Linked DNA regions of Homo sapiens: region 1 is linked to region 2. The links come from fine-mapping of genetic effects on gene expression. A gene starts in region 2. The other region holds a variant in brackets. All regions are shown on one strand. Distances are between the middles of the regions. Region 1 holds the start of PRSS57 (serine protease 57). Region 2 holds the start of RNF126 (ring finger protein 126).

Evidence for each region. PIP is the estimated chance that this variant, and not a neighbour inherited with it, causes the effect. A credible set is the group of variants that fine-mapping cannot tell apart.
Region 1: its variant is the best candidate, but not a certain one, in a credible set for the expression of RNF126 in whole blood (TOPMed, PIP 0.56).

The regions. Positions count from the first base shown.
Region 1 is chr19:692,843-695,741 of GRCh38, forward strand. PRSS57 (serine protease 57) reads right to left here and starts at 2,610. Exons shown (of 5, transcript NM_001308209.2): 1 at 2,510-2,610; 2 at 1,972-2,125. The coding sequence starts at 2,588. The variant C/G (reference allele first, on the strand shown) is at 1,650.
Region 2 is chr19:661,873-664,771 of GRCh38, forward strand. RNF126 (ring finger protein 126) reads right to left here and starts at 1,342. Exons shown (of 9, transcript NM_194460.3): 1 at 1,175-1,342. The coding sequence starts at 1,249. RefSeq lists enhancers at 1-18, 309-358 and silencers at 409-698, 1,189-1,668.

The sequences.
Region 1 (2,899 bases), 31 kb after region 2:
AAGATAATACTTATTATATTTATTATAAGTTCTATTTCAATTATAATATTAACTACAGTAATTTCAATATTCTCCTTTTTTTATTTCTTTAATTTTTTTTTTTGAGACGGAGTCTCGCTCTGTCACCCAGGCAAGATTGCAGTGGTGCAATCTTGGCTCTCTGCAAGCTCCACCTCCCGGGTTCACGCCATTCTCCTGCCTCAGCCTCCTGAATAGCTGGGACTACAGGCGCCCGCCACCATATCCGGCTAATTTTTTGTATTTTTTTTTAGTAGAGACAGGGTTTCACCGTGTTAGCCAGGACAGTCTCGATCTCCTGACCTCGTGATCCGCCTGCCTCGGCCTCCCAAAGTGCCGGGATTACAGGCGTGAGCCACCGCACCCGGCCTTTTTTTTTTTTTTTTTTTTGAGACAAGGTCTCACTCTGTCACCCAGGCCGCAGTGGTGTGATCACAGCTCACTGCAGCCTCGACCTCCCAGGCTCAAGCGATCCTCCCACAGCAGCCTTTCAAGTAGCTGGGACCACAGAAGCACAGCTCCGGTGCGGAGGACTCTGCGGGGAGGAGGGGGTGGGTGAGATGGGGGTGACGGCTGCCCGTCTGGGCCTCAGTCCACTCATCTATGAAATGGAGGCCCAGTAATCCATTTAATGCTCACGCCGGCCCCGTGATAATATTAGGTTGGTGCAAAAGTAATTGCACGAAAAAAATTAAATGGCAAAAACCACAATTAACTTTTTTTTTTCCGACAGAATCTCACTCTTTCCCCTAGGCTGGAGTGCAGTGGTGCCATCTCGGCTCACTGCCACCTCCACCTCCTGGGTTCAAGTGATTCTCCTACCTCAGCCTCCCGAGTAGCTGGGGATACGTACAGCCACTTGCTACCATGCCCAACTAATTTTCGTATTTTTTTTTTGAGACAGAGTCTCGCTCTGTCCCCCAGGCTGGAGTGCAGTGGCGCGATCTCGGCTCACTGAAAGCGCCGCCTCCCGGGTTCACGCCATTCTCCTGCCTCAGCCTCCTGGGTAGCTGGGACTACAGGCGCCTGCCACCACATCCGGCTAATTTTTTTGTATTTTTAGTAGAGATGGGGTTTCACTGTATTAGCCAGGATGGTCTCGATCTCCTGACCTCGTGATCCTCCTGCCTCGGCCTCCCAAAGTGCTGGGATTACAGGCATGAGCCACCGCACCCAGCCTAATTTTCGTATTTTTAGTAGAGACAGAGTTTCACCATGTTGGCCAGGCTGGTCTCATACTCCTGACCTCAAACAATCCACCGTGTCCCAACGTGAGGGGGACTGCAGGCTGGCGGGGGAGCTGGGGACACTGCAGCCCAGGACCAACCTATCCCGTGCCTGGTGGGGGCTCCTGCAGGAGGGGACCCACCCACCCTGGCCCCAATATACATTTTAATAGTTATTATAACAATATGTTTAAAACGAGGCAGGGCATGGCGGCTCACACCTGCAATCCCAGCACTTTGGGAGGCAGAGGCGGGTGGATCATTTGAAGTCAGGAGTTCGAGACCAGCCTGGCCAACATGGTGAAATCCAGTCTCTACTAAAAATGCAAAAATTAGCCAGGTGTGGTGGTGGGCGCCTGTGATCCCAGCTACTCGGGAAGCTGAGGCAGGAGAATCGCTTGAGCC[C/G]GGGAGGTGGAGGTTGCAGTGAGCCGAGATTGCACCGTTGCACTCCAGCCTGGGGAACCGAGACTGCCTCAAAAAAAAAAAAGAACATAGTGACAGTTACAGTAACAGAATATGTACTTGTTGCGCCTGTTGCTTCTTCTGTGCTTCTTTTGCCTCCCTGCCTTATCCTCCTGTTTTCCCTTTGTTGCCCTTTAAATCCAGCCCCTGCTGAGACTCCCCCTCCTGCAGGAGCCACGGCGCCCCCAGCTCCCCCACCAGCCTGGAGTCCCCCTCATGTCGGGATACGGTGTCCAGAAAGAAGGGGCCCGACAGGTGAGCTCACCTGTGGCTGAAGCAGTGGGCGGCCGAGACCACCCAGCGGGCTCGCAGCAGGAAGCCTCCGCAGTGATGTTGGCCCCCGAAGCGCACGGATGCCATGTAGGGCCTGGAGTGGGGGGTCACCTCGTGGCCCCCGATGATCTGGGCCCCCCAGGAGCCTGCTGGAGGGACGGCCTGAGTCAGGGACGAGGCGGGAGGAACGGATGACGGGGCTGGGGTCAGGGCAGGGGGAGAAGTAGCGGCCAAGACAGAGACAGGGGGTGAGATTAGAGACGGAGAGACCCAGAGAGCTGGAGACAGAGCCCAGACAAGCCCCCCAGATGCGCTGGGAGGGGCTCCCGAGCCCGGGAGATCCAGGGCTGGGCTGGGCAGAGACCCCGGCCGGATTTCCATCCATTTCCAGCAGAGGCAGCCACGGGGGCTCGGCAGATGGAGCAGGTGGAGCTCTCCCCAGGGTTCTCCCGGGACTGGGGGTTCCCGGGTGTGGCCCCCGTACGGGGACTTGGCGGGGGCCTGGGTGGGGATCCCGGGGGGCTCCTCACCGGGGGGCTTCACGGGCAGCATCAGGGCGGTGGCCACAGTCAGCAGAGGACGTCCCCAGCCCCTCAACCCGAGCCCCATGGCAGACGCAGGCTGGCGTCTCCCCGCAGAGGTCTTCGGGCCGTGGCTCCCACCCTCAGCCAACGGCCGGAAAGGGGGAGCCTGGCTGTGGCCTGTGGTCGGGAGGCCCCACCAGCAACGCCTGGAGCCCAGGCGGGCGTTTCTGAGAAATCGATGGTCTCAGGTGGTGGCTGGTAATAATCATGTTGATAATAATCATTGTCCCCTAGTCCGGAAACAGGGAGAGGAGGAGACAGCTCTGGGGCTGCAAGTGACCTCGGGAAGGCAATTGACCCTTCTGTGCCTCAGTTTACCCAGCCTCCACGTGGCCC
Region 2 (2,899 bases):
CTCAAGCTGGCCAAGCGGCTCCCGACTGAGCCGGCTCTGCCACTTTCCCGCTGAGCCACCACGCGCCTCAGTTTCCCCATCTATAAAGCACGGGTGGCTCGACTAAATCACCACTTTGCACGTCAGCCTGGCGAAGGGCAACACGGGTTAAAAATGCAGACCACCGCCGGGCACGGTGGCTCACACCTGTAATCCCAGCGTTTTGGGAGGCTGAGCCAGAAGAATCGCTTGAGCCCAGGAGTTCAAGACCAGCCTGGGCAACACAGGGAGACCCCATTCCTAAAAATAATATTAGAAATGCAGACTGCTGAGCGCATTCCACACCTACTGACTCCGAAACCCTGGAAAAGGGGCCTGGAAATAGCACCTTCAACGAGCGCTGCTCCCACCTCCCCCAAGGTGACATCAGGTCCGCGTGGGAAACACTGCCCTAAACGAGCAGGAAGTAGCACTCGGCACGCCCAGGCCCAGGGTCCTCTTCGGTGAGGGGCGGCTGTAAACACCTGGAGGAAGGGTGGGCTGCGCAGCCAAGCCCCGGGAGGGGAGGAACGCAGGCTCTGCTCACAAAGCCCCGCCGGCGGGCCGCGGTCGGACCCCGGGACAGTGCCTGGGGCGTTCCGGGCCTGGGCCTGCCTCCAAGGCGGCGGCCAGGGCTCCACGAGGCGAGCCTGCAGCGAGGCGCCGGCGCCCCCAACCACGCGCTCGGCGGGGGTCCCCTGGCGTTATTCTCGGGGTCCGAGCCCCGCCAGGCCCAGCCCCTGCCCCGCGCCGCGCCACCGGGCAATACCCTCTCTCTGCTCGCCGGGCCTCAGTTTCTCCGTTTGCAAAACCAGGCTCACCGGGCTTAGGGATCCCACCTGGGATCCTCGCGGCCTCTCGGGTCGGGAACGCCGCGGATGTGGGGTCACCCGGCCGCGATCCCGCTGCGCCGCTCCGGCCAGGCCCTGCCTCCCGCCCGGGCCTCAGTCTCCCGCATGTACAGGACGGGGTTCGCGCGCGCACCGCCCGGGCTCCCCGCGGATTCAGCCTGGGCCGGCGCTGCCCCGAGCCTCAGTTTTCCCGTCGTGGTCAGCTCGCGCAAGAGGCGGGCGCAAGCGACCCCCACCCCGGCCCCGGCCTTGCCTCAGGCCTGCGGCGCAGACCCTGCCGCCCGCCGCCCCGGCCCGGGCCTCACCGGCAGGCGCGGGACGATCTCCACGGAGCAGCAGTGGCAGAAGTACCGTCCGGGATGCGGCGACGCCTCGGCCATGGCCGCCGCCACCTACTCCGCGCCGCCCGCCCCCCGCGCGGCACCCGCCGCCGGCCGTTTGCTGCTCCCTCGCCGGCCGACGCGCCCGCGCACGCTCACGCACGGCACGCACGGCACGCGGGGCGGAGCGGGGGCGCGGGAGCGGCGAAAGCTGCGTACTCGGCGGGCAGCGGCCCGGGCGACGGTGGCCGCTGAGAGACAAACTAGGCCCGGCCGTTGGGCGGGGCTCCAAGCGGGGGCGGGGCTTCCGGCGGGGGCGGGGCCAAAGCAGGCGGCGGAAGAGACGAGAAGCGGGGCGTGCGCGGGGCGGGGCCGAGGCCCTCCTCCCCTCCCGAAGCTGCCCAGGCCTTCGTGTCCCTCAGTGCTTCCCTACCTCATCGCCGTCTCCCCTCACGGTACTTCAGCCCACTGTCCCCACCGTTCCTGGGGCTCGCCAGGCGCCCTCTCCCCCGCCCGCTGCCCGGTGCAGCGCTCTCCCGACGCCCGCGTGGCTTTCTTCCAGGTCTTTGCTCAAATGTCAGCTTACAAGGTCTTCTCTGCTGCCCTCCTGCTCCGTGGCACTGATTCCCTCCCGATGCACTGTCAGGTCAGCTGCGCAGCAAAGGGATTTTTGGACCCGCAGCAGCGCCTGACACACAGCAGGCATTCCCTCAGCGCTGCGGAATACAGGCAGACCCGGGGCTCAGGGCGCTGTCTGGGCCTCACTGGGACCCGTGGGGTCAGACAGAGGCTGAGGTCTGTGGGTTGTGGCCTTGTTTCCAAGATGCTCCACGGGCTGACGGCCCAGGCGCCTCTCGGGTGCGGAGAAGGCAGGAAACCTAACCCCTGCTTCCAAATTTAATCAGTAGAAACGGTATCATCACCCAGCACAGGCCAGGATCATTTCTGAGGTTAGTTCTGGCCCAATCATGCATGCATTTCTTTTTTCTTTTTTTTTTTGAGACGGAGTCTCACTCTGTCACCCAGGCTGGGGTGCAATGGCCCGATCTCGGCTCACTGCAACCTCCGCCTGCCGAGGGTTCAAGCGATTCTCCCGCCTCAGCCTCTCGAGTAGCTAGGACTAGAGGCACCCGCCACCACACCGGCTAATTTTTGTATTTTTAGTAGAAACGGGGTTTCACTATATTTGGCCAGGCTGGTCTTGAACTCCTGACCTCGTGATCCGCCCGCCTCGGCCTCCCAAAGTGCTGGGATTACAGGCATGAGCCACCGCGCCCGGCCTCATGCGTGTATTTCTTTCTTCACTCAACACTCATTGAGCAACTACTGCACACCAGACCCTATGCTGAATGCACGCAGATACCCCCAGTCCCATGAGATTGGACAGGAGCGTGGAACTCAAGGGTGACTCTGGCTCTGCCTGGGGAAAGAGAGAGAGGGCTTCCGAGGGGTAAGGACATTGGAACCAGGGCTGAGGGATGAATAGGATTTGGTTGGAGTTGGACTTCCTGCAAAATGAGGCATTGGAGCGAGACTGTTGAGGAATTAAGAGTTGGAGCCTGTGCATTTAGATTTTTTGTTTGTTTGTTTGTTTTTTAGAGATGGAGTCTGGCTCTGTTGCCCAGGCTGCAGTGCAATGGCGCAATCTCGGTTCACTGTAACCTCCGCCTCCCGGGTTCAAGTGATTCTCCTGCCTCAGGCTCCCGAGTT